Linked DNA regions of Homo sapiens: all the other regions are linked to region 2. Evidence: fine-mapped expression QTL. A gene starts in region 2. Each other region holds a variant in brackets. All regions are shown on one strand. Distances are from middle to middle.

What was found. PIP is the estimated chance that this variant, and not a neighbour inherited with it, causes the effect.
Region 1: its variant is the best candidate, but not a certain one, in a credible set for the expression of PM20D2 in lung (TOPMed, PIP 0.80).
Region 3: its variant is the best candidate, but not a certain one, in a credible set for the expression of PM20D2 in tibial artery (GTEx, PIP 0.83).

Annotation. Positions count from the first base shown.
Region 1 is chr6:88,737,543-88,747,849 of GRCh38, forward strand. All of the region lies in intron 13 of RNGTT (RNA guanylyltransferase and 5'-phosphatase), which reads right to left. Among named protein-coding and RNA genes, the nearest start is that of RNGTT, 220 kb to the right of the region's middle. RefSeq lists a silencer at 5,835-6,035. The variant A/AT (reference allele first, on the strand shown) is at 5,762.
Region 2 is chr6:89,140,092-89,150,398 of GRCh38, forward strand. PM20D2 (peptidase M20 domain containing 2) reads left to right here and starts at 5,964. Exons shown (of 7, transcript NM_001010853.3): 1 at 5,964-6,518; 2 at 9,174-9,322. The coding sequence starts at 6,054. It overlaps LOC101929004 (a long non-coding RNA gene), which reads right to left and starts at 6,775. Exons shown (of 4, transcript XR_942766.4): 1 at 5,602-6,775; 2 at 3,656-3,742. RefSeq lists a silencer at 5,781-6,710.
Region 3 is chr6:89,247,228-89,257,534 of GRCh38, forward strand. GABRR2 (gamma-aminobutyric acid type A receptor subunit rho2) reads right to left here. Exons shown (of 9, transcript NM_002043.5): 9 at 7,237-10,307. Among named protein-coding and RNA genes, the nearest start is that of GABRR1, 35 kb to the left of the region's middle. The variant C/T (reference allele first, on the strand shown) is at 4,969.

The sequences.
Region 1 (10,307 bases), 400 kb before region 2:
TATTTGAAAATACGGCCTCTTACGAAGTAATTAAGAGTAAATGAGGTCACAAGGGTGGGGTCCTGATACAATAGGATTAGAAGTCTTATAAGAAAAGACAGCAGAGAGTGTTTTCCTCCTCCCCTTGTGCCATGTGAATACACAGTAAGAAGAGAGCATCCGCGACTCAAGGGGCAGAACCCTTGCCAAACACCAACCCTGCTGTAATCTTGAAATTTCAGTCTCTAGAACTATAAGAAAATAGATTTCTGTTGTTTAAGGCACCCAGTCTATGGTATTTTGTTATGGTAGCTCAAGGAGACTAAGACAAACATGAATGCAAATATCCTCAACAAATTATTACCAATGTTAAATCCAACAATGTATAAAAAGAATTGTACAGTACCCTAAGAAGGGGAGAGTGTAACTTTTCAGTGTTTAAGTGTAGGCTTCACATAGTGATTTCCTTCCAAAGAGTACAGTATGAAAAGGAGGAAGAAATGGGTTATCTTTAAAATGGAGAAAACTCACAAACCCTACTTTAGCCAGGTGGTCAAGGTCAACATCAAAAATCATAAAATCATGTTCATAGTATGTACTCTTGATACAGTGTGATAGAAATCGCACTTCATCTGTGATCTTCTTTCCCTAAACCCATACCCCAAGTCTGATTATGAGAAAAACAAGAGACAAATTCTAAATGAGGAGCATCCTATAATACATTTGAGCAGTGCTTCTCACAACTGGCAATGTCATTAAAAACGCGGAAAGTATGAGAAAATGTCACAGCCAAGAGTACCCTAAGGAGATATGACAACTAAATGTAATGCAGTATTCTAGATGGGATCCTGGAAAAGAAAAAGGACATCAAGTAAAAACTAAGGAAATCTGAATAAGCTACAGACCTTAGTTAAAAATAACACACCAAGTCTGGCAAACATGTGAAACCCTGTCTCTACCAAATAATACAAAAATTAGCTGGGCATGGTGGCACATGCCTGTAAGTCCTAGCTACTCAGAAGGCTGAGGCAAGAGAATCTCTTGAACCTGGCAGGCAGAGGTTGCAGTGAGCCAAGATGGCACCACTGTACTCCAGCCTGGGTGACAGAGTGAGACCCCGTCTCAAAACATAAATAAATAAATAATAACATACCAATATTGGTTCATTAATTGTAATAAATGTGCCATGTTAATAATAGGGTACACTGTTTGTGGGGGGCCCAAGAGGTGTATATGGGAACTTTCTGTTCTATTAATATCTACTCAATTTTTCTGTAAATTTAAAACTGTTCTGGAAACTAAAGTCTATAAATAAAATACACACACACACACACACACACACACACACCCCTTCCAAAACAGGAAGAAATAATGCATTCACATAAAAGAAATTTTAAAATGAATGATGTATAAATAATTACTAAATTAAAATTCTTAATGTAAAATAATTATATCTTAAAATTATTCCTTACTTTAGAAAACTGACACCAATTTATACTTTATGTTATTAATGTATGTGATGCAATTATATAAAGAAGATAAAAAAACTTTCTCAAATTTTCACTGTAGCCAACAGAAATCATTAAAAAGCTTGATTAAATGAGATAATGTATATAAACTACATACAAGGGAAATCAAGCATATTAGAAGCATTAAACACACAAATGATACTATTCTTATTATTAACAAGCTGGTAAGACAAAAGGTGAAGCAAATTTATGGAACCAAGAACTCTTCTAAGAAGCTTATTAAATTAGAGGATTCTTCATGTTGGGCCAATACCCAGCAATTCACAGTTTAAACACTTCCAGCTGGTAAGTGTTTTTTTGAGGCAAGCAAGGGAAATGAAGAACAAAGGGAGAAGGCAAAACTAAGAGAAAACAGCTTTCCTGTAACACTAAAGAAATTCAAAAGCATCATTAAATAAATACAGAAACACAGAAAAACATCACTGGAATAATAGAGCAGAAAAATTTTAAGTAAACTTATGTTTATGTATGAAAACAAGAAAGTAATTAGAGAGCTTTTGCTTTTAGGAACTATTTTCTAACATGTGACAAAGACAGGCTCAAAAAATATCTCATCACATACAGAACAGATTGAAAATACTTTAAAATGTTAAAAATGTTTATAATTCTGTCAGTTCAAATTTCACACTTTGGAATTAGGATATATTTCTCCCGTGTAACTGGTGTGAAAAAAATTATATATATATATATATATATATATATATATATATATATATATATATATATATGTTAACACATGCTCCATTTATCTAAACTAACATTGTTTAATTTTATTATACCAAGCAAATAGAAAATTTGAACTACTATATGAAGCTCCCATGAGGATTTATCCTTTAGATATAATTTATGGAATAGCAGAATTAATTTTTTAAAGTAATACATAAAATATGTCTACTAATTAATACCATCTTAGAGGAATCAATAAAATTCATTTATCAGTTATCTTCCATTCTGCTGACACCAAAGATATCATCCTACTCTTCTTCCAGAGAAACAAATTTTTCCTAAAATCACAATGTTCCTTTTTCAGAAGCAGGAAGAGAAAATTCTAAGAGAAGAAAGTAAAGGAATTCTGTGAAACAAGTAGGAAAGAATACTCAGGAGAAAGCAAGAGGGCTACTCTAGAGTTTACACCTGCTCAGAAAGGGAACAGCAGAATTAAAAGCGATCAAAAAATGAAAACGGGATCAGGCATGGTGGCTCATGCCTTTAATCCTAGCACTTTGGGGGGGCCGAGGCAGGAGAATCGCTTGAGCCCAGAATTTGAGACCAGCATGGACAACATAGTAAGACCTCGTCTCTACAAAAAATTAAAAAATTAGCCAAGCATAGTAGCACACACCTGTGGTCCCAGCTACTCGAGAGGCTGAGGTAAAGAGGATCACTTGAGTCTGGGAGGTCAAGGCTGCAGTGAGCTGTGATCAAATCACTGCACTCCAGCCTGGGTAACAGACACCCTGTCTCAAAAAAACAAAAAAACAAGAAAGGAAAGAAAGAGAAAAAAGAAAAGAATAAGAATAAGATGCAGCCATAAAAATGAATGAGATCATGTCCTTTGCAGGGACATGGATGAAGCTGGAAGCCATCACCCTCAGCAAACTAACACAGGAACAGAAAACCAAACACTGCATGTTCTCACTCATAAGTGGAAGGTGAACAATGAGAACACATGGACACAAGGAGGGGAACAACACACACCAAGGCCTGTTGAGGGGTGGAGGACGAGGGGAGGGAACGTAGGCAAGGATGGGTCAATAGGTGCTGCAAACTACCATGGCACACATATACCTATGTAACAAACCTGCACGTTCTGCACACGCATTCCGGAACTTAAAGTAAAATTTTTAAAAAAAAGAAATGAAATGACTTTTTAGTAATAGCCATTCTGACTGGTATGAGATGCTGGTTAGGCTGCAGAGAAAATGGAACACTTGTACACTGTTGATGAGAACGTAAATTAGTTTGACCATCATGGAAAATAGTTTGGAGATTTCTGAAAGAACTTAAAACAGAATCATCATTTGACCCAGCAATCCCCTTACTGGGTATATATCTAAAGAAAAGACATTGTTTTACCAAAAAGACACATGCACTCACTTGTTCATCGTGGCACTATTCACAATAACAATGACATGGAATCGACATAGGTGCCCATCAACAGTGGATTCGATAAAGAAAATGTGGTACACATACACCATGGAATACTACGCAGCCATAAAAAAGAAGGAAATCATGTCCTTTGCAGCGACATGGATATTGCTGAAGGCCATTATTCTAAATGTGAGAACAGAAAACCGAATACCACGTGTTCTCACTTATAAGTGGGAGCTAAACACTGGGTACTCATGGACATAAAGATGGTAACCATAGACAATGGGGGACTCAAGGGAAGGGAGAAAGAGGGGAAAGGGATGCAAAACTGTTGAGTACTATGCTCAGTACCTGGGTGACAAGATCAATTATACCCCAAACCTCAGCATCACACAATATACCCCATGTTACAAACCTGCACAATTACCTCCTGAATGTAAAATAAAAGTTAAAATTATTTTCAAAAATTTTTAAATTTAAAATAAATGAAATGAAAAACTGCTCCATATTACAAAGCTGAAAGATGATGTGACATCACAATCCAACATCCAGCAATGAAGTCTTCGAAAGCACATTTTCAAGAGATTTAATGAGTAATTAGATACAAAAAATTATTAATAGTGGTTATATGTGGGTAATGGGTAGGGGGCAGACTTTTCCTTTTCATGGCTCTGAACTTTTGTTTTCTTTCTCCATCTCCTCATAAATATATACTAGCTTTATAATTGCAAATAACCCCAAATAATTATCGACTGGTAGGACGACCTGATCTTTCCGTTGCTATTAGTAGGATCGTGTGTTCTTTTCATAAGGATCTAGATCATAAAAATAACCTAAATCTAAAACATTACAAGAAGAAAGCTGAAACATACATACTTCATTAACTGATGTTAAAAAACATTTATTAAATGCATTTTCTTTTACAGCATGATGACACTGCACTGTAAAAACAAGAGGTCCTGAATTCTATGGGCATATGGTGTAAAGCAAAAATGCTGATTCAGACAAATAGGACATATACACAGCAAAGCCAAAACAAACAATACTTTAACATGTATCGGATAAAGGTAGAAAGTTGAGCATTTACCTTCCAAAAAGGAGGGAAGGTCAATAGCCCAAAGAGAGAAATCACAGACAACTGAGAGGAAATGACTTTTTGTTTAAAAGCTAATCAGTTCTGTTCAAATATATTTAAAATATGCAATGGAAAGGCATTTCTTTTAAGAATGTTTTTAAAAGACCTAAAACAACTAGCTCATATCATATCTGTTTCAAAAATTATTTGAAGTTTACACATACAGTTACATGACAAGTTAACATATCATGATAGCTTTTTAAATCATTGCCATCAATAATCTGTTCTTCTTTCATCTTTCCTTTTGTAATCTCAAAGGAAAAGTTGCGAGACTACGTTGGGGGAAAGAAAGGCTTGTTAGAAGTCACGGCATGCTCTGATTGTGACAAAGAGTGCTGTGGCTAAGTGACCCAGATCTATTGACAAGGCTTGGAAGAGTTAGTCCCAGGTAGGAGAGAAAATTTACCAGTAAGCACTAAATGAATTCCAATATTAGATTACATTACAATAGCTAACTGTTGAAGTTTGGCAGCATTCACTTAAAGTGTAAAGGTGATTTTAAAAACTTTTCAAAGGGTGCTTATGAGTAGCAATTAGAGAGAAGTTTTCTAGAATTATAGTTCGGAAGAAAAATAGAATGTTACCCCTATTATTTATATTTACATGCAAGGCAAATGCATAGGTGGCTTGCTAAGTCACAGTTTAAGACGTCACCTTTCATCTGGAGAAAAAGATATGGATTACAGAAGCAATGTCTCAGAAGAAATAGGCATTACAGGGCTAGTCCTACAATTTCCAAATGTGAAGATACGCTATATTTCCCAAAGCTAGATCTGAAATAATAACATAAGAAGTAAACATTAATTTTTGTATTAAAAATGCACAAAAGGGCAGTGAAGACTCTTCACTCAAATAAAACACTGTATTGTTCATGGAGCAGTTTGAAAACCATGACTATGATAGAAAAGGAGTAAGTTTTGGAGTATAACAAGGATTTGTTTGAATACTAATTCCTATACTTAAGACTTATGTGATTTTAGACAAGTTCCTGAACCACTTTAAAGAAGTTTACTTGTTTTTTTCTCCA[A/AT]TTTTTTTTATTACGGTAAAATATACAGAACAAAATGTAGCATCTTAACCACTTTTAAGTGAACAGTTCGGTGGTATTAAATACATTCATAATGTCATACAACCATCACCACCATTCATCTCCATAAGTTTTGTTTTGTTTTGTTTTGTAGAACTGAAACTCTACACCTATGAAAAATGACTTCCCATTCCCCACTCCCTCCAGCCCCTGGTGACCACCATTCTACTTCCTGTCTCTAGGCATCTCATATAAATGGAATCACACAGTACTTGTCTTTTTGTATCTGGCTTATTTCATTTTGCATAATGTCCTGAAGGTTCATTCACAATGTAGCATATGTCAGAATTTCCTATCTTTTTAAGGTTGAATAATATTCTATTGTATGTATATACCACATTTTGCTTAACCATTCATCTACAGACACTATATCCCTTCCACATTTTAGCTATTGTGAATAATGCTGCTATAAACATGAGGGTATAAATCTCTTTGAAACCTCATTTTCAGAAGCAGAATTGCTGGATCATATGATAATTCTATTTTTAATTTTTTGAGGAATGACCATACTGTTTTCCACAGCAGCCATGCCAATAGTTTACTTATTTTTAATGAAGATAGCAACAACATCTACTTTATAGGTTTAGTATGATGAATTGAAATGATAAATAAAAATGGCTTAGTATAAAGCCTAAAAACATTTTGTTGGTACTCTTCACCTTTTTTCCCCCAAAGAAATAAAAATACCATATTTAAGCTACATTTTATGTTGAATTTATATTTGCATTTGTCACTATACAATAAATTTCATTATCAAACAAGCTTTCATGAGTTCATCATCTCCTGACTATATGATTTAACATAAGGAAATAAAACAGCTTTGTCAACAACTAGTAATCATTCTAAAATAGTTGGTAAGAATAGGATTGTTCTTATTACTCCTTTTTATTTTTCTTTTATTTATTTATTTATTTTTTTGAGACAGAGTTTTGCTCTTGTCATCCAGGCTGGAGTGCAGTGGCTTGATCTTGGCTCACTGCAACCTCCACCTCCCGGGTTTAAGCGATTCTCCCACCTCAGCCTCCAGAGTAGCTAAGACTACAGGCGCGCACCAGCACGCCCGGCTAATTTTTGTATTTTTAGTAGAGATGAGGTTTCACCATGTTGGCCAAGATATTCTCGATCTCCTGACCTTGTGATCTATGCACCTCAACCTCTCAAAGTGCTGGTATAACAGGCATGAGCCACCGTGCCCGGCCTGTTCTTACTACTCTTTATAAATACAGAAGACAATAGAAGAAGAGAAAACTAATCATTACATTAGCTCTTTTCCTCTAGAAAACCTGATTTCTGCTATTACATATGAATAGTTTTTTATGCTATGATATGAGGTTGATTCTTAATAAGACAAAGAATTTCAATGCATTGTTATTATAACATATACTAAACAAGATGAGTAATTTAGGAGAAAGTAGCTTAAAATCTCAGGATTATAATCATCTGCTATCATGACAATTAAAATGAGATAAATTTCAAGTATTTGGGAAGTTAACGAAACATTACAAATATGATGCTTAATATAAATAACAAGCTAAGGAAATTCATCAAATTATGAATATTTTTGGTTACAAATAAAACCAACTTATTGTTTCTAAGTATATATAGTTCTAATCAGTTTAGAGGTTAAAACAAAGTATTTTTCCTGGAAATAAAAAATTACCATAAGGAACACTGCAGTGATAATTTTTGCACGCAGGATCTGCTAATAGAAGCTACAACTAGTAGGAGAAAGTTTGAGGAGAAACAGAATATTTGCATACACTCTCCAAGAACCTATTAACTAGAAAAAGGAAAGCAGCAACTTTAAAGAAGAGAAACTCCGCATATACCACCTTTAACAGTGATGAAGGTTAACATTACCAGTAATGAGACATATCTATATCATCTACTCTGATATGACACACTGAAAACAGCACATCATTTCTGTGGTATTCTTGCAAAAAGTGCGTAACCTCAATCTAATTATGAGAAAGTACCAGACAAAGCCAAATCGAGGTATTGGGAATCAAGTTCGAGGATTCCCTAGAAGAACTCAAAGGACTCAGATGTTGCACTCACAGTTACAAGTTATTACAACAAAAGGATGCACAGAAAATCAGCAAAGGGAAAAGACACATGGGGTGATACATATTACACTGATGTTGAAATGACAACATTTTAGATATATTGAGTTAAATAAAATATGTTATTGGAATTAATTTCACCTGTTTCTACTTTTTATTATGGTTACTAGAAAAATTTAATTACATGTGTGACTCACATATTTCTATAGAAGAGTGCCGGTCTAAATACATTAGAAGTTACAAAATGGTGATAGTCTATTATTCCTTCTTCATTACATGGCTGGAAAACTTTCATAAAAAGAAACTTACCATTTGGCTATCTGAAGTATGTGTCGTATTAAAAAAAAAAAGCAGAAGAAAAAAAGGCTAGATTCTTGCCCTGGCTTTCAAAATAATAACTTGGCCCCCTTATATACTTCAAATATAACTGTACCAGTTATCAATTTTAATTGTGGAAGTTATCAATTTACTGCCTCTTATTTCCAAAGCTACCCTCTTGCCCTGCTTTGTGATACAAGATCAGGACCCTGTAACCCTGCTCCTTTGCCAGCAGGTACAAATGTCAGGCTTTGTGAGTACAGAGCAGTGAAGGGACACTACAAGGGCATAGCCTGGGTTCTGGTTTGGATGTTTTTCTATGATGCAGTTGTCAGCTAAATATTGTGTGGGAAGCCTGGTGGCACTCACCTGCAAGGCTCTAGCAGACCAGCTCTAGCCTGCCGGTATTCTATGGCAAATTTCCCCACCACCAAAGAGTGGCTTCTAGCAGACCAACTCTGATTTTCCAACATTTTCCAGCAAGTTTCTTCACAACCAACTGGCTGCTCCCTGTGGTCCAGCTGTGGCCTGCCACTCCCCTCTTACCCAGTTTTCAGATACAAGTCAGTCCCAACACCCAAAGGCCCCTGATGCAAGGGGAGGCCAGGTCCCCTTGCAGAAAGACCCTGTAGTTTTGCCACAAGTATATGCTTTAAATTATGTACCAAATCATCCCCAGAAGGGCCTATTGCTATCTACTAGAGCAGCGGTCCTCAACCTTTTTGGCACCAGGAACCAGTTTTATGTAAGATGATTTTTCCACAAATGTTGGTGGGGGAATGCTTTGGGGAAGATTTCATGTCAAATCATCAGGCATTAGTTAGATTCTCATAAGGAGCACGCAACTTAGATCCCTTGCATGAGCAGTTCACGATGGGGTTTGTGCTCCTATGAGAATCTAATACCGCCACTGATCTGACAGGAGGTAGAGCTCAGGTGTTAATGCTTGCTCCTCCGCCACTTACCTCCTGCTGTTGCAGCTTGGTTCTAACAGGCCACAGACCTATACTGGTCTGGCCTGGGGGTTGGGCACCCCTGTACTAGAATGATTATGTCATGGAGAAAAATTAATATCCAGACCTTTCAGAAATACTCTATACTGATTCCAGGGAAGTGATGCCAACTCTTGGGGCACAACACGCTACTATGACACAACACATCAAAGTGAAGACTTAAAGAAATCAGGTGATGGGTGAAGTCTTAACACAAGTTTGACCCATAGCAGACCCAGTCAGTCCACAGACTCACCCTGTGGTACTTTCTCCTATTCCTGAATGTATAATTGGAATAGACATACTTAATAACCGGCAGAATCCCCATAGGCACTCTCTTACACATGGGTTAAGGGTCATTATAGTAGAAAGAGATAAAGAAAAGCTCTAGGAACTTCCTTTGCCTGGCAAAATAGTAATCCAAAAGCAATATTGTGTTGGGGCAGGGGGTGGGCATCAAAATTTGAAAGAAGCAGGAATGGTGATATCTATCACATTCCCATTTAATTATCAGTCCGTCCTGCACATACATACATCATATAAATCTCAAATGGCTGTGAACAATTATAAACCTCAACCTTTTTCCCAAACCACTCATCCCACATTCTTCCCTATGGAATTAATCATGGCTCCTCTTTCTCAAATCTGTCAGCTCAATATACCACTTACGCTTTAATCTAGGAAGCAGAACCATCCAGTGATATAGAATCAGGAGTTTATTATAAGAGTTAGGCCTTATACTACTGTGGTAGAAGCGAGGGAGTAAAGATCCTGAAGGAGATAGTTGGAGGATCAGAAAAATACTTCTAACCAGAGACCATTAATGGGAGCTTGTGAAGAAGTCTATAAAAGCCTGTATCCCCGTGTTTGATGGTGAGCCTAAAGTCTATGACAGCAGGGCAGACAGTTGGGAAGAAAGCCTGGACATAAAATAGGACAAACTGCAATGCCTGAGAACAAACTGGAACTGATGGAGACAAACTGGAACCCAAGTCTGTTTTCAATCTTATCTAAACCTGATGCTGTAGATGACCTGCAGAAGAATCTGTTTCCCTTTCCTATGGAGCTATACATTCATTTGGCCCATGACTCACAGAAGCTAACAGGTAAGCCAAC
Region 2 (10,307 bases):
CACCCAGCTGATTTTTTTTGTTAACTTTTTTGTAGAGATGGGGGGGTGGTCTCACCATGTTGCTCAGGCTGATCTCAAACCCCTGAGCTCAAGCAATCCTCTTGCCTTGGCCTCCTAACATGCTGGGATTACAGGCATGAAGCACCAGTCCTGTCCTATTTACTAATTTTTAGAACACACATATTTTTATTAATGACTTATCACATTTTTAATAAAAATTTATTCCCACAGAACACCTTGAGGATTGTAACCCTGTGACCATCTATACCTGCCATCCATTCCTGCTAGCATCTTTGAAATATGTAGCAACAAATTGACCAGGAAGTTTGAGAAGTGAATCCTTAGTAAAGGTAATTATTAACCATGGTATGTACACAGTCGAGGTGAACACATTGCTTGAGGGATCAATCTCTTCAAGGACTTTAAAAGCACTGCACCGGGCCCAAGCTCTAGATGTTGTATAGAGGACCAGGGGCAGTCAAAGTTCTCCACCCATTTTCCTAAGCCATAACGGTAGGAGAGAAATGTTCTTGTTAACCACAAGCTGGGTTACGTCTTTGCAGTGTTGTTTTGTACACACTGTGGGGAATCAGGGCAAAGGAAAAGCCTATCCTCTCAGAACCTCCCTGTCCTCATTTCCAGGAATAGTGATGGAGAACAGAGCAGCTAATCTCACTGCCAAGAGAAGGGAAGCCAAAGGGAGCCTCAGGTCATCAGGTACCAGGACATTCAGGGCTTTAAAGTCACTGCCTTCACTTTGTGGGCCATTTGAAGAAATCCGCACAGAACTTGAAAACGAGTTGTAATAGAATCTTGCCCAGCAGAAGCAAGGGTCTGTCAGGTATTTTTGCTCATTCCCTTTTTGTTTTTCAGGGTTGTTTCCTCAGCTTACATTTTTCCCTTTCAACTCACTCACTCCCTGGATGGTTTAATTCCCCTCTGGGTATACCATTACTCATACTAGCTATGTAGAAATGCACTTTCCTTGGTGCTCTGCTGGTCTCCTCCTGGACAACTGCATCTACCTCCTCTCCACGTGTCTAATGCACATCCATCAATTTGCCCCTCACTCTCTTATTTCCCCTATTTTGTTTCATGGCTTTACCATTCACTCAGCTGTTAACCCGAGAAACTTCAGTTCTCTTTCCCCCTTTCTCTGGAGCACCTTCTTCACCTAAACAGACATTCAGTGAGGAATTAAGTCTGGCCATTTCTGCCCACGGAATGTTTCTGGAATCCTTGGACTTTGCAAGAGCCTTTTATTTATTTTTAATTTTTTAAATTATTTTTTAAAGACAGAGTCTCACTCTGTCACCCAGGCTGGAGTGCAGTGACACAATCTTGGCTCACTGCAACCTCCACCTCCCAGGTTCAAGTGATTCTCCTGCCTTAGCCTCCTGAGTAGCTGGGATTACAGGCGCCCGCCCCAACACCCAGCTAATTGTTGTGTTTTTAGTAGAGATGAGGTTTCACCATGTTGGGCAGGCTGGTCTCAAACTCCTGACCTCAAGTGATTCGCCCATCTCGGCCTCCCAAAGTGCTGGGATTACAAGCGTGAGCCACCACGCCTGGCCTGCAAAAGCTTTTAACTTATCTCAGACCTAAGTCTGTTTCCAATTCATCTTCCAAATAGTCATCAATTATTCTTGTAGAACAAATTTCTGATCTTGTCTCTCTCCTGCTTAATAACATCCAATAGTTTAGCCATTGTCCAAGTTTTATTTTACTTTGAGACAAAAGTCTCACTCTGTTGCCCAGACTGGAGTGCAGTGGTGCAATCATGCTTACTGTAGCTTTGACCTCCCGGGCTCAAGCGATCCTCAAACCTCAGCCTCCAGAGGAGCTGGGACCACAAATGTGTGCCACCATGCTTGGCTTATTTACTATTTATTTTATTTTATTTTATTTTTTGTAGAGTCAGGGTCTCCCTATATTGTCCTGGCTGGTTTTGAACCCCTGGGCTCAAGCTATCCTCCCACCTCAGCCTCTTAAAGTGCTGGGATTACAGGCATGAGCCACCAAAACCAGCTAAAGTTGTAATTCCTTAGCAATGTGTTGTACACTTCCTCTATGTCCCTTCATCCCCAATCAAATTCACCTTTCTGCTCACCTACTCTCTTAGTTGTCTGCTTTCTGCCATATGACAACCAGCTCTTCCAACACCTTAGCCCAGATTGATTTTACATGTGCTATCTAGTGCGTGTTACGTGTTTGTTTCAGCTAGAGAAGTTTCTGGAGTTAACCAAGTTTGCATGTGTGTCTGGGGATGCTTAGGAGAATGTTGTAAATGACCAGTATACCAAAGTGACACTGTGATTTGCTTCTTCTCCATGCTGGCAGCAGCAGTCCTCAAATCGTGCAGTGGCCAGCATTTTGTTCAGGAGAAAATTGCTGTAGTTCCAAGTATTGTTAAACTGAAACGATGTAGGCTGGATTCACATGCACTTTTGGAAATATCATATATTTTGAAGGTATTATAAGTTTGATTTTTTTGGTGAAATATCTGCACTCTCTCCTTGGATTAAATCATTTTTGCACTTTTTATTCCTTTCCCCCACAATTATTATTATTATTATTATTTTTTGAGACGGAGTCTCGCTCTGTCACCCAGGCTGGAGTGCAGTGACGCGATCTCGGCTCACTGCAAGCTCCACCTCCCGGGTTCACGCCATTCTCCTGCCTCAGCCTCCCGAATAGCTGGGACTACAGGTGCGTGCCACCACGCCCGGCTAATTTTTTGTATTTTTTAGTAGAGACGGGGTTTCACCATGTTAGCCAGGATGGTCTCCATCTCCTGACCTCGTGAACCACCCACCTCGGCCTCCCAGAGTGCTGGGATTACAGGTGTGCGCCACCGCGCCCGGCCCCCCACAATTATTTTTGTTTGTTTGCTTTTCATTCCTGAAATCCTGCACTGAAGCTCTCTGGTACTTCTATTTACTTTTTCTCTACCTTTAATTTTCTTCATTTTATTTTTCATTCCATTCCTTTTTCTGTTTTCAAAAACTTTTTTTTCTCATTTAGCTCATGCTTTGCCATGAGCTCATGCTTTGCCATGTTGGGGATTTTATTTTATTATTTCTATCTTAATTCAAAGAATATAAACCATACAAAAGCCTGCTGCCTTTTCAAAAGGAGTTCTGAATCTGAAGCCCAAAATAATACCCAGTATAGTTGTACAATTTGGCTGTATTTTAGTTGCTTTTCCAGGGTAAAGGAAATTTTTGATCTACTCTTTCCACCACAGCACTCATTTGTCATGAATGTCCTGTTCTCAAAGTTATTGAGTCAGTTGTGATGACAGCTGGTTTTCTAAGCAGCCAGGAAAGAAGAGGAATCTTTATATATTTTTTCCCCTTTTTTCTCATCAGGAGCCAAGAAAGAACATTTATATACTTTAAAACCAGTCCTCAAGAGAGAACTATCTGCACTCCTCTCACCCCCCCAAAAAGGTTATACATCTTAATACTAAATTCTGGATATTGTATTGTTTCCTCAGATCCAGCACCAGCTAAAGGAAGGGAGCTTGTATACATTTTTTTTTGTTTCTAATAAAAACATACAGGTTCCTTACCAGTAGCACATAGATAGGGTAGACAGTTGTATGAATATTATGGGTACAAATGAAAGTAATAGTAAGAATTTATGAGCTGACCAGATTCTAGAAAGCCACATGTCCAACTCCATCAGCTTCCAGAAGCAATTCTTCCTGCCCCCAGCTCCACATAAAGGACTGAGAAGTCTAGGAAGAAGCATAACAATGTCTATTGGTAGTCAGTGTCGTTTAATGGTTAATTGCTGCCATTATTCAGTTAGTTTATTAGATTCAAGAAGAATAATCAGCCAACAAATATTTATTAACACAGAGGAAATGCTGACCATAAGATGTTAGGTGCTGGGGAATGCAGTGGGAAAACAAAAGAGTTTAAAGCCTGGAGGGGAAGATAAACGGTCAGCAAGTTATCACAGTTTATCAAATAAATGAATTCAAGGGTGCAAAATACCATGAGCAAGAAATACAAGGTGTCAACAGTAGAAACTGAATACATACGTGCCTGTGGGCATGTATACCCACCCACCCACCCACATATATACACAAGGAACAGAGCTTGAAATGAATCTGTCTTTCCTCTACCTCAAGTGGCAGCTTTGTTAATTCCTGCAAAGCAATATAAATAGCAGCTTCTATATGAAATTATATGCATCCCTTTTCTGTTGCTGTTTATTGATGCCTGAGGAGGGCAAACATGGGTTCTACTGATGTCAGCAGGCAGAGTTGCTGCAGTAAAATTTATTCAAAATGAGTGTTGTGGGTTCTGATTTGAATAGATAAACTGGAGATGCATTTATGAATTTGCATGTCTGTTTACACAAGCAATAGACCATGGTGGCTGAAAGTCAGCCACTGGAGGCTGACTCTGGCTTCTGTTCTACAGTGGGTCCACTACTTACTAGCTCTATAATCTTGGACATACATCTGTAAAATGAAGATAAATAACCACATTAACCACCTCATAGTTTGCTGTGAGGATTAAATGAGTTAACAAATGCTAAGCCCTTGGAACAGTGCCTAGCACAGAGTAATTGCTCTACAAATGTCACCTATTGCTTTTGCTCTCCAATCCCCCCTTCTCCCCTTTTTTTAGCCAACTAACTGAGCAGGATAATATTGGATCTCGTGGATACAGGGTAATTTTCTTCAGCAGAATACCAGAGAAAGATTTATTATCGCCAAGGGGGCCCAGGAATTTAATAACACATTTGTTGTTTTTAGAGCTGAGTTTTTGTTGGAGTGTTAACTGAGAAAGAAAGTTTTCAGACGTGAATGGAATGTGACATTTACTCTGGTATTATTAGCATATAGAGTAGTAAAAACAGTAGTTGATAGTCTTCGTGCATGTTAGCTTCCCTTAGACTTATTTTCAAAATATTCATTTGGTTTATCACATTAATATATTGTGTCCCATTTAACATAGTTGAGACAAATTAAGGAAAGATGATAGGGTATGAAGAGCTGATAGAAGCTTTTAATATGTGGAAAACCTCAGAATATAAACATCTACAGTGTTATTAATAGGCATACCGTCAACAACAGTTTTTCAGACTTTGTGGTTCACTCTGGAGAAAAACAAGAGCATGACATCTTGAATTTCTTCACTGGGTAATTAAAAAACTCAGTTATAATGTAACACCAGCTGCACATATCATGTTAGTGGAGTTCAGCATCAATTAAAATTATAAACGAAACCTGTCATATGTTCCCTTTCAAAGCTGTTCAAGACAACTGTCCAAATCAACAAAACAGTATGAATATTTACTACCATAAATCTTTTAACTCTTTGGTTTTAACTCATTTCAAATTTTTAGTTCTACTCTATTCAAATAAATTATTATATAATAGCTAATACATACCAAGAGCTTACTGCATAATCTAGCTGCTGTTCCAGACATTAGTAACCAATGAGAAAACTGTAGAGAGTAGCTGCAGCTTTTAGTAATACAATGTCAAGGAGAAGAAAGTGGGGGCAGTACCGAAACTTACGTACAGTACCGTCGTTAGTACAGCATTGACACTGACGGCCTCCTTCAGGAAATACAAACCTTGTGAGGTTTTAATTACTAATGCTACAGAGTGGCGTTTTTCCGAGGACTGTGTTCCACTTGGTCTGTCTCTGATGGCTATTAACTAATAACCGTTCTCATTCTGCTGCTGTGGGAAATAAGCAACAACGGAAAAGTAATCGATAATCTTAGAGCATAACTCAAAGGCCAGAGCAGCCAAGGAGGTGGAAGAGTCCCGAGCCCTGCCTTCTCCACAGCACCCCCAAAACCCCACGGCGGGGCAGAGCGCCTGGTAGGGTACGAGCGGCCGCCAGCGTTTCCCGCGCGGCGCCGGGGGCGGCCCCGGGACTGGGGGTGGTGCCCTGGGAGCTGTGTGGCCGCGTGCGCGCTCCGCCGGGGTCCTGGAGGCCTCTGGGCGCGTGCGCGGGCGGTCGCTACCTGCGGCCGAGCCAGGGAGCGAGAGGGCGCAGAGGGCAGCGGGCTTGGGCAGCATGAGGCCCGGAGGGGAGCGGCCCGTGGAAGGGGGCGCGTGCAATGGCCGCTCCGAGCTGGAGCTACTGAAGCTGCGCTCGGCGGAGTGCATCGACGAGGCGGCCGAGCGGCTGGGGGCCCTGAGCCGCGCGATCTGGAGCCAGCCCGAGCTGGCCTACGAGGAGCACCATGCCCACCGCGTGCTGACGCACTTCTTCGAGCGGGAGCCGCCCGCGGCCTCCTGGGCAGTGCAGCCGCACTACCAGCTGCCCACGGCCTTCCGCGCCGAGTGGGAGCCGCCGGAGGCCCGGGCACCGAGCGCCACGCCACGCCCGCTGCACCTGGGCTTCCTCTGCGAGTACGACGCGCTGCCCGGCATCGGCCACGCCTGCGGCCACAACCTCATCGCTGAGGTCGGGGCGGCGGCCGCGCTGGGCGTGAGGGGGGCCTTAGAGGGCCTCCCCAGGCCGCCTCCGCCCGTGAAGGTGAGGTGGGGCCCGGGTGCGGGACCCTATCCGACTGCCCGGGTCGGGGGCGACCCGGGAAGGGCGGGACTCTCGTGCGTCCCGCGCGCCTCGGTGCCCTCCCGCCCGGGGCAGGTGTGTGTGGGACCGCGCTAAACCTGCGGTCCTCGCCTCGGCGCAGGAGCAGAGCTGAACCCCCAGTCAAAGTCAGTTCGCGTTGCCGACCTGGCGACATCTTGCAGATTATTGTTTCCTCCTCTCTAGTTATAAACAGCTCTGCTGAGTTGTTCCCTTAGGAAAGAACTTACACCCAAGCCTGGTGTTTGTTACGGGTTATTTTTGGTAACTGAGAGAGGCAACAGCAATTTGCTGACAAGGTTGTGCCATCAATCTCAGGAGGAAATAACTTCTTGTAGGTAATCCTACGGCCCCTTTTTATTCGTCTCCAAATAAATCTTTTGTTTGTGGCAGTCCTAGAAAATGTGATTCAAGTCATTGGTATTTGGATAGGAATTTTCAGTCGCTAGAACCACCAGACCCCTAGAAGTATACAAATAAAGGGGAAGTGAATGAGCATTATACATAGATGAGTTCATCCTTAAGTCTTAATTTTTTTGTTTTATGATTTTAAGAAATACCTCGACTCTTTAAACAGGGAAATGTCGTTTATGTTTGTCGTAGGGCAAGTTTAATCCTGTTTTACTCTGCTTTTCCAGATGGTATATTCTACACTATGAGCTAAGATTCAATCGTCATTCAGTTAAGGGGAAAACAAATGTTTTATTTTCATACTCTTTAGTTCATTTCCCCCAGTGTCAGTAACCTTCCTCTTTTATCCTAACACTACATCTTTTGTGGCTTTTTCACTTTAGCTGCCTTCTTTTTTCTGTCTCTGGAGGCTCGTTTTTGCATTTGTTAGGTTTTTGTTTGGGTTGGGGGAAGCATGCTTTGCCATGTCACAAACACTGGAGAGATTTCGCTTCAACCACGTTTTTAAAGGTTCTGAGTAGTCAGCGAGAGACATATCGTATTTAATGAGTTAAGGGTCAAGAATGAAGAGCGGTGGGCAGATCAGTTGAGGTCTGGAGTTCGAGACCCGCCTGGCCAACATGGTGAAACCTCTGTCTCTACTAAAATATATTAAAAAAAAAAAAATTAGCTGGGCGTGGTGGCTCACGCCTGTAATCCCAGCTACTCGGGAGGCTGAGGCAGGAGAATCGCTTGAACCCAGGAGGCAGAGGTTGCAGTGAGCCGACATCGCGCCACTGCACTCCATCCTGGGCAACAGAGCGAGGCCTCCTCTTAAAAAAAAAAAGAGCGGCGGCTTCATGTCAGAGTTTGAGCACTGTAGAACCGCCAAAAAAAAGCTAAACTTTGAGAAATGTACACTCTTTTTTTTTTTTTTTTTTTTTTGAGACAGTCTCATTCTGTCGCCCAGGCCGAGTGCAGTGGTCCTATCTCGGCTCACTACAACCTCCGCCTCCCGGGTTCAGGCGATCCTCGTGCTTCAGCCTCCTGAGCTGGGATTACAGGTGTGTGCCACCACGCCCAGCTAATTTTTGCATTTTTTAGTAGAGACAGGATTTCGCCATGTTGGCCTGGCTGGTATCGAACTCCGGATCTCGGGTGATTCGCCCACCTCGGCCTCCCACAGTGCTAGGATTACAGGCATGAGTCACCGCTCCCGGCCCACTCTTCTAACTTCAAATGGTTGTTCTCAATTTTAGCAAGGTTAAGTTATTAATTATCTGAAAATGGAATTTAAGTTGATTTCCTTTGCAAGCCAAGACTTTTCCAGCTTGTTTCATTGTGTTCTTATACATGATCTTGAAAATATATTAGTTGTTTATTTTGATTTTTAAAATTGTTTGAAGCAGTTAAGCTTAAATATCAAAGTAAAATGTTTATTCTGTAAAGTTCTCTTTTGTTTAATTAGGTGTTTGGTGACCAATAAATCTGCCTGGTTGAACTGGTGGAATCGAATTAGTAAGTTTGTGTAATAGTTGGCTGTTTCTAACTGTGGCATTAAGACTTGTTTAATGTTCTTCATAAAGGATTAATGAGTTCAGACTTTTAAAATAGGTAGCCCAGTAAGGAATCAGAGTTTAGGCCAGAAGATCAGGACATCTAATCCTAATTCTGCCTGAAGACTTGCTCTGTGACCTGGGGCAAGACACTTCACTCAATTCCTCAAAAACACCCCCTGTAAAATGATGATAGAGATCACCCACCTACCTCACAGGGTTGTTGTGAGGATAAGTAGTAAGTTAACAGAAAGTTTCTGACTCGTAAAGTACTTAAGAATAATTATATACATACATACACTGAAAGGCTTAGTCGAGAGGAACCTTTTTGAAACAAATCCTAACAAATTTTGAGGGACTAAACTTGTAGTATTTTTTTTTATCTTTGCCATTAGTTGACTTGTAAAATTGGGAAAAGCTTTTTATAGTGTCTTTAGTACATACTTTGCACCAAGTTGGTATAACAATGTACATTTTGTGATTAATTTAGCACCATTTGTTGATGCCCATTGCGTAAGCGTCATAGAACAAAACCTGTCTTAATAGGTTAAGGACTTTAATGTAGATTGTGAATACATATGCAGGTGAACCTGTTTGATATATTCCTATGAGGATTTTGTTGTTTTTCCCTGACATGAGTATTTCCTTCTAGGTAGTTGTCCTGGGAACCCCTGCAGAAGAAGATGGTGGTGGCAAAATTGATTTAATTGAAGCAGGGGCTTTTACAAATCTTGATGTTGTTTTTATGGCCCACCCATCACAAGAGAATGCTGCTTATCTACCAGATATGGCTGAACATGAGTGAGTAATCAAGTTGAAGATAAACTTCTTAGGGGAACACAGGCTATAGAATACTTTTATGTCTAAACCAGAGACGAAAACTCCACATTTGTATATTTAAGAAGTAAATTGAAAGACAATAACAAGATGTCTTGATCTATGGAGTGACATTTGGCAAGCCTCTTCTAATTGAGATTCATTATGGTGTTCATAATTGGAGTATTAAAATAGTAGCACTTAGAAACCATAGGAATAACAAACATGTTGACAATTAAGTTCTCTTTTGAACTGTCAATAATCTGGTGTCTGGAAAACATCTGTCCTTTCATATGAAATTGTCTTTGCAACTGAATAGATTTGCGAGAGATCGTTCTATTAGCTATGGGAAGAAACCACACTTATCCATTTTATTTACTTTAATTTGAGTTCTTTGCAAAGAGGATAAATTATGTCCTGAGAGAGAATATGGAACATGAGTAGCTATGGTTTTTGTGGAACTTCTCATTCTGTGCTTTTCCGATTTGTCTGGTGCTGAAACCTTTTATTTGTCTTTCTTTATGTTGAAGAACTCACTTTTTAGTACCTAGGAGCACACATCATTGAAGTGGTTTGGATTTTTTATACCAGAAATTTCAACCATAGTAGTAACTATAGTAGTTAATGGTCCAGGCACAAGGAGCCAGTGCTCAGCTGCTTCAGCAAAACCATGTGTTTTCCTCAGAAGTAGCTCGGTACTGAGGGAATGATAGCAGAACCATCACAGCAGTGCTTCTAGATTGTACCCGGGTATCCCACCTCTTAGCACCTTACCAGGCCCTGTTTTCAAAGGGTGATCATTTTAACTATTAGGGTATCTTCCTTCTTATCACTGGAAATTGGTACTGTGGCAGTAGGAGGAATCTTTGAACTTTGGTTTCAAGGGTGGTGGTAAACTAGTCCATCTCTAGAAAACACTGGGGATTAGAAATCTCTGCCCTTGCCTTTGACTAGAAGGGGCCTGCATATG
Region 3 (10,307 bases), 110 kb after region 2:
TATAGAAACAGAAAGTAAATTAATGGTTACTTAAGGCTAGGGGAGGGGAGGAATGTGGAAATTGGGGATGAAAGGACAGGCAGTTTCTTTTTGGGGTGATGAAAATATCCTAAAATTCATTGCAGTAATGGTTACATGACTCTGTGAATATATTAAAAATCATTGAATTGTACACTTTAGATAAGCAAATTGTATGGCATGTGAATTATATGTCAATAAAATGCTTTCTTAAAAAAAATTCACTGACCTAGTTAATACCTAATAATTCTGCTCCTGGGTACGTGCTAGGAGAAATAGGAGCATATGTTTACACAAACTCTTGTACACAAATATCTGTAGAAGCTTTATTTATAAATACATTTATTATTTTAAAATCATTTTAAATAATTTATTGTAAGAAGATTTATTTCTCCAAACTGGAAACAACCCAAATGTCCATCAACAGAAGAATGGATAAAGAAATTCTGGTTATTCATACAATGGAATACTGCTCAGCAGCAAATCAAAATGAGCAACTGATACGTGCAACAACATGAATTAATCTAAAAAATGCTATGTGGAGTGAATAAAAGCCAGACATAAAAGAGTACATACCTCATGATTCCATTTATGTGAAGTTTTAGAAATGATAGAACCAATCTAATGGCGATGGATCTCAGAACAGTAGTTGTGAAGTAAGGGAAGGTGATTATAAGGATTAATCTGGAGCATGGAAGAACTTTATGAGGTGCCAACAATGTTCTATCTCTGTAGATTGTGGGCTAATGGGTACACACATTGTCAAAACGAATGGAAATATACACTTAAGATCTGTATATTTTAGTGCATGCGAATCATAACTCGATAAAAGTTGTCAGCTGTATCTGGTAATAGTTTATGAAAAGGTAAGTTTCCCAGAACACAGATATGACAGATATGACTACATATTCCCACTCTTTAGATGCCCATATTCATGTGGCATGTGTACATGACATGCAATAAATAGGGGCAGAATAGTATTGTGGAAAACGAAAGATGTCATTATTCTTGGACACTATGGCCTTAAGATAAGCAGTAACTTGAATCCCAGGTGTACAAATGGCCCAGATTACTGACTCATGTAGTCATACATTATTATTCACAGTGTTGTTTTTAAATGCTGTCTTATTTCTTGTATTATTTTATTATTAAGAAGGAACATCCAGAAAATTATACAAGCTGTTTATCTCACTCTGGATTCTTTTTTTTTTTTTTTGGAGACAGAGTCTCACTCTGTCGCCCAGGCTGGAGTGCAGTGGCATGATCTTGGCTGACCGTAACCTCCGCCTCCCATGTTCAAGCGATTCTCCGGCCTCAGCCTCCTGAGTAGCCGGGATTACAGGTGTGTGCCACCACACCCAGCTAATTTTTTGTATTTTTAGTAGGGACGGGGTTTCACCATGTTGGCCAGGCTGGTCTCAAACTCCTGACCTGAGGTGATCCACCTGCCTCCACCTCCCAAAGTGCTGGGATTCCAGGCGTGAGCCACCGCGCCCAGCCCTCATCTGTTCTTTTGGTGAAAATGTCCAGGATAAAGTGCAAACTGAGTTTTCTTGGGAAGAATTTCATATATTCTGAAATCAGACCTTCCCACAGTTTCAGTGTTCAAATTTTTGTTTTAGAAATGACAGTGGGTCAGTGGCTCACCCCTGTAATCCCAGCACTTTGGGAGGCCGAAGGTGAGGGCGGGGGTGGATCACTTGAGATCAGGAGTTCGAGACCAGCTTGGCCAATATGGCGAAACCCTGTCTCTACTAAAAATACAAAAATAAGCCAGGTGTGGTGGCTTATGCCTGTAATCCCAGTTACTCGGGAGGCTGAGGCAGGAGAATCACTTGAACCCGGGAGGCAGAGTTTGCACTGAGTGGAGATCATGCCACTGCACTCCAGCCTGGGCAACAGAGCGAGACTCCTTCTCAAAGAAAAAAAAAAATGACAGTGATAAGAGATGGAAGTAATATTTTGAGTTGTGGGTGGTTTTAAATCTTTTCATTTGGCAAAGTTAAAACTTAGCAATGCTCTTCCCCTTTTGGGAACATGGCAACACTCTTCTCCTCCTTCCTCACTTTCCTCCCCTCTCCTCATCTCTTTCTTCTACTTCATTTTTCCTCAGGGACCAGACACTGGGCTGAGTATTTTAGTTTTTGTTTTGTTTTGTTTTTTAGAGATAGAGTCTTTCTCTGTCACCCAAGCTGGAATGCAATGGTGTAATCACAGCTCGCTGCAGCCTTCAACTTTTGGGCTCAAGCAATCCCCCTGCCTCAGCCTCCCAGACAGCTGGGACTACAGGTGCATGACACTATGCCCAGCTAATTTTAAAATATTTTTTGTAGAGACAGGATCTCACTATGTTGCTTGCGCTCAAGTGATCCTCCCCCCTTAGGCTCCCAAAGTGTTGGGATTACAGGCATAAGCCACTACACCCAGCCTGGGCTGGGTAGGTACATTGGCTCACTCACTTCTCACATCCACTCTGAGAGGCCAGAATTATGTGTGTGTGTAACACACAAACACACACACATTTTTTTTTTCACGTAAAGAAACTAAAACTCAGAGTAAATAAATGGCTCATGGCCACAGAGCTAGCAAAGTGCATCCTCTGAATCTCCAGGCTCCTGCCCCCACAAAGAACATGAATGAGATACCTCAGTAGCTAACAATAAATGACACAATGTAAGTAAGCATTCAGCACAGTCCCCAGTGCCTCATGGGCAAGAAGAGTTCACTCATTTCTTCCATAAATATTTCCTGAGCATCTATCATGTGCCAAGCACTGTTGTAGACCCTAAATTACTGCAATTAAGGAAATGGACAAAAATCCTTGCTCTCAGATAGCTTACCTTCTAGGGCTTCTTATTACATCCATGGTTAAATTCTCTGGGGCAACCTCCCCTCCTGTACCCTTTCTGCTCACAGGAGGATGAGAAAGGTCTGTGGCTAGGTGCCACTCTACAGCCTCTCCAATGCCATGGTAGAGCAGACACCAGGAAAGAGTTGGAGATGTGGAGGCAGCAGCTGCCAGCTTCCTAGCGGAGGTGGAACAGCGGTGCTTTCTTAGGGAAAGGAAAAGAAGAGGCAGGTGAAGGCCGGAGGCCAGAAGAGGGCTGGCAACCAGAGGCCCAGCATCCAGGGCTGGAAGCTTCTTCCAAGCAGCTCAGGCAAATCCAAGCTCTGTGGGTGCTTGTCTGACCCTCCCACCCCTGATTTCCGTGCCTGCGGCCAGGAAGTCAGGTGCCTTCTGGAATGATCTGAAAGGACGTTGGTAGAAGAAGACTAAAACCTCCCTTGGGCCATTTTTTTTTTCCTGGAACTCCGTAGCTTTCTTATAGGAAACTGTGAAAAGTGAAAAGGGCTTGGGGACAGAAGCCCCAGTTCCAGCCCTGGCCCTGGAACTCACCCCCTTTACCTCTTCTCTCTCTGTAAATCCTTCTTCACTGGGCTCCTGGAAGAACTAAAGCACTGGGTTCCTGGAAGAGCACCTGCTCATAGTAGGCTCTGTATTCTTTGTTGGGCTGGTTGGCTGACTCCATCTCTTGTCCCCATGCACTGTGTTCCTTCTTGTTCTTCTGTCTCCCACCCATTCCTCCAGAGTAGACCTTAAAGCCCCTCCAGAGAACCCCTTGTTTCCAGGGAACACAGTTTAGAAACCATGTCCAGACAATACTCTCCCAGAGAAATTTATTTCAGACTTTAGTACCAGCCTTTATTTTTTTCAGACACAGGGTCTCACTCTTTCACTCAGGCTGGAGTGCAGTGGCACAATCACAGCTCACAGCAGCCTCAGCCTTCTGGGTCCAAGCAATCCTCCCACCCACTTCAGCCTCCTGAGTAGCTATGATTATGGGTGCACACCACCACACCCAACTGATTTTTAAACTGTTTTGTAGAGGAGTCTTGTTATGTTGCTCAGGTTGGTCTCGAACTCCAGGGCTCAAGTGATCCCCCTTAACAGCCTTTTAAAAATAGTGTCATTTAAAAAGAGAGAGAGAGTTGAGACCACAATAAAATCAGAATGGGGCTGGGCTTAGGCACTGATACTTTTTCAAAAGTTCCCCAGGTGACTCACATACAGCCAGCCTGGGAACCATTGTTCAAGTAGAATAATCACAACATAAAGGAAGTGCCTCAATGCACAAAATGCTTTGGGATCACAGATGAGATAATAATACATTCTGCCTTGGGAGGGGAATGTGAGCTCTCTTGTCAGGATGCCACAGACGGGAGGTGACACATCTGAGTTTCACTTCAAATGATGAGCAGGGGTCTCTGGGGCCTTGTTACTTAAAGCCTGGTCCGCAGACCAGCAGCACCAACATCTCCTGGGTGCTTGTTAGAAATACATAATCCAGGGTCCCCTCCCAAAACTATTGGATCAAAATCTGCATTTTATGAAGATATCCAAGTTATTCATATGCACATTAAAATTTGAGCCATGTTGGGCTAAATGGACACAGTGCAGAAGAGTATTCACCACCATTAACCTGGTCAGTTTAGATTAAACAACAGAGTACTACAGCGAAGGTTTATTTTTCAATTTAGCTTTTAAAATAAATCCGAAACCTAATGTTATCGATGGCTGGCCCAAATGTCATTTTTTAAATGCCATCTGAAGGTCAGAGGGTCAGGACTGAGTGCTTTATCCAATCTGCTAATGGGGAATGTTCTTATGCTGCAGATATGAGCAGGCTCCGGATGGCTCTGGAGGCTGGGTAGGCTGGGCCATGAGACCCTCCTAGCACAGGACTTAACTCTCCATGAGAAGAGTCCAGCACACTTGTCCTCAGACACATGTAAGGCACACAGCCTTCTTTACCGGTACCGTTTCCTAGTGATTGGTGGGAGTGGGGAGTCAGCTGCTTCCATACCGGTGCTAATCCTCTAGGCCACAGCCCTCCGTTCCTTTGCAATGGAATGAAAAAGACAAGACGTTTCAAATGGTGGTGGTCACGG[C/T]GGCGGCTGTGGATTCTCCTTGCGCACTGATTAAATGAATAGTGCTTTTAACAGAGTCGGTGATGGAAACCCATAATGCCTCTGCCCTGGCTGCCCTGAATATGTATGTGTCTCTCAAAGCCAGCTTCCAGCCTCAAGAAGCTAAACCAAGATGTCCTGGTTTAACTCCAAGTTCTCACCTGAGTGTAGAGATAACCATGTAGATGTGTTTCAGCATAACCCAGATTTTCTATCTGCTCTTTCTAACCACTTCTCTGTCCATCTAAGTGGGGAATGAATCACCTTTTTCCTGAAAATACTATGAGAAATGGATTGTTTCATGCAAGATCCACCTACGTAGATGTGTTGACTGCAGTTATGGGAGGCCCCACAGCTTAGCAGGTATGGAGTACGGGAAAGTCCTTCCTACCACAGCAGGGTTGATGTGAGAACTGAATCAGGAATCACACGTCTGGCGTTTAGCCTGGTGCTGAGCGGAGGATGCACTCTATACTTGCCATTTACCTCATATGGTCACTTTAATGGCTGTTCTCTTATCTTCTGTGACGACTGGATCTGATGATCCAGTTATAAACGCTGTTCTTGTGCCACTCCCCCAAATTCCAGTGTAATAGTTTGGGGAACCAACCATTGAGAACACAGCCCTTATTCAGGCTGGGTCTGCTACCATGTTATGTTTTAAGCCTTCAAAAATATAAGAATCTATAATAGTCTTTCCATAATAAGTAACATAATTCTCTGAACATGTTACTTCTACCTTCCTCAATCACTGTGGTTAAGACAGCCAAGGATGGCTGTCTACCTGGTGTTTGTGGCCACCGAGCCTCCTGCCTACACCTTGTCACATCTGTTCAGTCTTTACCCTTCTTGTTTTTATGGTTATTATTTGCTCCCAGCCCCACCCTCCTCCTGTTGAGAAACTCCCTCCTCCCAGCTTCTACCACAATCCTCCTCCCACCTAAATATATACTCCCGAGCTCTTGTCCACAGACCTGCTGTCTGCTGCTTCTTCCCCTTCAGTTTTGGCCATTTTCATAGCTTCATTCAGCATATCTAGGATATGGTTCCAAATCTTTATCTCCCTCTCAGGCTCACACCAACATTTGCTACTTTTTATTTGACATTTCTAGTTCCTTGTGAAACTCAAACTCCTCATCCTCCACGCATGCCAGCTCTTTCTCCTGGCTTTCCAGTCTCTATGAACATCAACACATAGACTGTGGCCCTCACACATTACTGAATTTAGCATGAACTTTCTCCACTATTTTTAATGTTATTTTCCTTCTTCACTGGTTTCCTCAAACTAAGCAGCCTTTCATTTTTCAAATTCATGGCCTCCCTTTAACAGATGTTTGCAAAAAGGTGGAACCAAATAAAAGTGTTTTTGAAGAGTTCTAGCTTTCTCAACTTAAACACATCACAGAGATCTGATCACCTTCAACATACATGGCCCAGCCCAGACCAGTTAAATTCATTCCCCAGGTTTATTCTAAGTGGAATAAACATAGAAAGACCCTTGACACTGGGTGATTGAACTAGAAAGCTGTGGGCCTAAGACCGTCAAGGCCACTTCACCCACCCACCCACAGCAGGTGGAGGAAACTTGTCTGCAGTGGGTGAGAATGAAGACAGACAGAGTGTTGGATGGAGATATGACCCTGAAGGGACATGCTGAAACCCAATTCCAGACCCTTAATTCCCTAGAGCTTCCCTGCTGCCTTCAAATCCCCTTTCATTCTATGAGCCCCTGGAGTATCCTTCCAATATATCTTCTTTTCATTTGTACCATTTTTAGTTGAATTTCTGTCACTGGCAACCAAAATGGTTAAAAACTACACCAGTTTATATTCTGATGGCAAATTAATTGATTTTCCAAAAGATTATAACTTCCCTGCTCAAAGCCCTTTTTCTCCAACTTACTTTTCCTATCTTATGTCTTGTACATTCCGTAGAGTGTCTATTCACTGACCCCTGAACATACCTGAGCTTTCCTTCTGCCACGTTATCATCCCTTCCTTCCCTTTTCTAGTACTCAAAGCTGTGTTTATTCATCACTCAATATTTATCAGAAAACACTCCTCAAATTCTGTGATCATTCCCTCCTTTGAGCCACACCCATTAGAGTGTAAGCTTCTTAATGACTGAAGAGTGTTTCCCATTCATTTCTTTACCCGTCACCACCATCCCTCACCTCAGCACAAGACCTTGAGGACAAGTGCTAAATAAATGTTGGCTCCTTGGTGTCAATGAAGTATGTCCAATCACCAGTTTTTGTATAAAACCCATTTCTTTTATTGTAACATTAACATTTTTTCACAGTTTCATATTGGTGAAATCAGGATTCATATTATAATCATTGGCATTCCAGAATTTGATTGTTAGTATTTTTTCTCAGTACATAAAATATGGGTGCATCTTACATTTCACCATGTCTTAGATTCAGTGAAGTAAAGTATCATTCATGCATTCCTGATAACAATTGTGTTTGCTTCTCTGTCTTCCTGCCTCCAGGGTGAATCATCCCATGTTCTCACTATTTCCTTAGTTCCTGTTTTCTACTCCTACCAATGTTGTCTCCACTTTACCTCTTTAAATTTCCTACTTTTCTCAAGTAGTGTCAGACTAGTATACTGTAATAAGGCAATGCTAAATACAATGGTGTCATTGTATCATGGCCCTGCATGATAAAACACTGTTTATGATTCTAAATATGTCTGCTATAGAATTAACTCCAGTTTAACATAGAAGCTAGCAAAAATAAATATTTGTTTTAATTTGTGAACAGGCAACTATGTTATATGAGCCATAATGCATGAAAACAATGCAGTCAGAAGCAGAGAAGGGTTGGAATTAAATAAGACTTACAAGCAAAGCAATATGATATATTTAATGACAATAGAATTATCATTCTTCGAGCAGCACTGTGGCCTGGGAGAGTCTCTATAGATAAAAGGTTTCTGGCCGGGTGTGGTGGCTCACGCCTGTAATCACAGCACTTTGGGAGGCTGAGGCAGGCGGATCACCTGAGGTCAGGAGTTCAAGACCAGGCTGACTAACATGGAGAAACCCCATCTCTACTAAAAAATACAAAAGTTAGCCAGGCATGGTGGCGCATGCCTGTAATCCCAGCTACTCCAGGGCTGAGGCAGGAGAATTGCTTGAACCCGGGAGGCAGAGGTTGTGGTGAGCCAAGATCAAGCCATTGCACTCCAGCCTGAGCAACAAGAGTGAAACTCTGTCTCAGAAAAGAAAAAAAGGTTTCTAAACAAGTCCAGATGCCCTGTACCACCCAATTACCCATATTTATGCATTTTTGTTCTTCATTGGTCTGTGAGACTGGGAAATCTAGTAGTCTTGGGTCCAGCAACTCCATAGTGGGGAAGCTGTCCTCATAAGCACCGGCATGGTGGGGACCTGCCTTGATCCCTAGTGTTGTGGAAAAAGCTAGTCGCTCACCTCCTCTTATCACAGCCTAGGATCCTGCCAAAATGAATGACTTGCCCACAAACCCTGTTCTCTGCAATGGCAAACCTTCCCATTCTCCCCATGCGTCCGCTCAAGCTGGTCTCTTGGCTGGTAGAGCTTCCTGGTCTTTAGGCTGCCCAGCCCAGTGCAGTAGCTACTAGCAACTGTGCTTACTAAGCCCACTTGAGTGTGGATGGTGTAACCAAGGAACTGAGTTTTCAATTTTATTTAACTTCAACTAATTTAAATAATAATAATTATTATTTTAGAGATAGGGTCTCGCTCTGTCACTCAGGCTGGACTGCAGTGGCTTGATCACAGCTCACGGCAGCCTGGAATTCCTGGGCTCAAGCAATCCTCCCGCCTCAGCCTCCTGAGTAGCTAGAACCCCAGGCACACACCACCACACCTGGCTAATATTTTTAATTTTTACTAATTTAAATTTAAATAGACATGTGGCTAGTGGCTACCATATGAGACAGCCCAGATCTAGGATGCATTCTGCTCCATTTCTTCTTCTTAAAATCCTGACCTTCAAGGGGCATCTCAGGGCTGCTTTCTCCATGAGGTCTGTCTCCCTGGTGGGACTGTTTTTCCTCCCTTGGAATTCCCATCTCACACTGAACTATTACTGAGGCACTAAACACTCTTAATCTTATATTATAGATATTTGTGTGGTATTTCCTTTACTAGTTCCTTCTCTGAGAGCTTCGACTACTCTTATTCTTAATTTGGACCCCAATGTACCTAGTGCAGAGATACTTTAAAATGTTTATTGCCTGAATATATAATAGTAACACCGCAATTAACATTAACAATAGGGAATTGACAAGAGTTGCTGTGTAGTAAAGGACTAACCTTTACTAGGAAGCAACCTCTATGCCCTTGGAATGTCCTGTGAGATAGAAGGGTCTTTGTCTACTGGGGCCTTGGGCCACACCAGATAGTCTATGCCAACAATGTGATTTATGATAGGTGCCCTGGACCTCAAGGTACCAGCTTAACCTCTGGAGGGGCAAAAGACTAAAGTCAGCCATGTGGGCAATCAGCTATAAATCCATGACCGACCCCAATAAAAAAACTGTACACCGTGGTGAGCCTGGGTAAGTTTCTCTGGCTGGCAATACTCCATGCACATTGCTACATGTCATTGCTGGGCAAAATTAGTGCTATCTGTGTAACTTCACTGGAGGAGGATAGTTGAAAGTTCTGGACCTGGCCTCTCCTGGACCCTGCCTTATATGCCTAAGAGTAAAAGCAACAGCAAACAGAATGGGTCTGTGGGGTAAGCGGGGTTGAAGGAGGGGAAAGAGCAGAAGTACATCATGCCATATGTAGAATGAGCACAACTTAGAGAAGATCTCTAAGGAAAGAGACTATTTTCTCATTTCTACCGTACCTGGCACAGAGTGGGACCTCAATATTTAATGAATGGTTGAATGGATGGATAAATGAATAATCTCCTCTAATATTGCAGAATCCTGTGGGTTGCCATACTCCCACAGGCCAAATCATTTCCTGTCTGGGATCTCAGCTCTTTTCCCTTCTAGGTAGGCACTTAATCAAGTTCAATGGGTTTACAGGGTGTTTTTTGTTCTTAATTTCCTATCTCCTATCCAGAATGCCCCTAAGCTTGTACTTCAGTTTTTCCTTTTCCCTCCACAACTGACTCCTAGGCAATCTGAGGGTCTAAGAATGTCTAGGAGGCATTTGAATCCTTGTTTATAGGAGGGGAGTTCTTGTGAATTAGTTCACACACAAGAACAGAAGGTCCCAGAGAGATGTGAAGTGTGACGCGAGACAGCATGAACATGGAGCAGCCCCACGGGGTCTGGGGTCAGGGCAGCTGGAAGGCTCCTGGGCTTCTCTGAGAG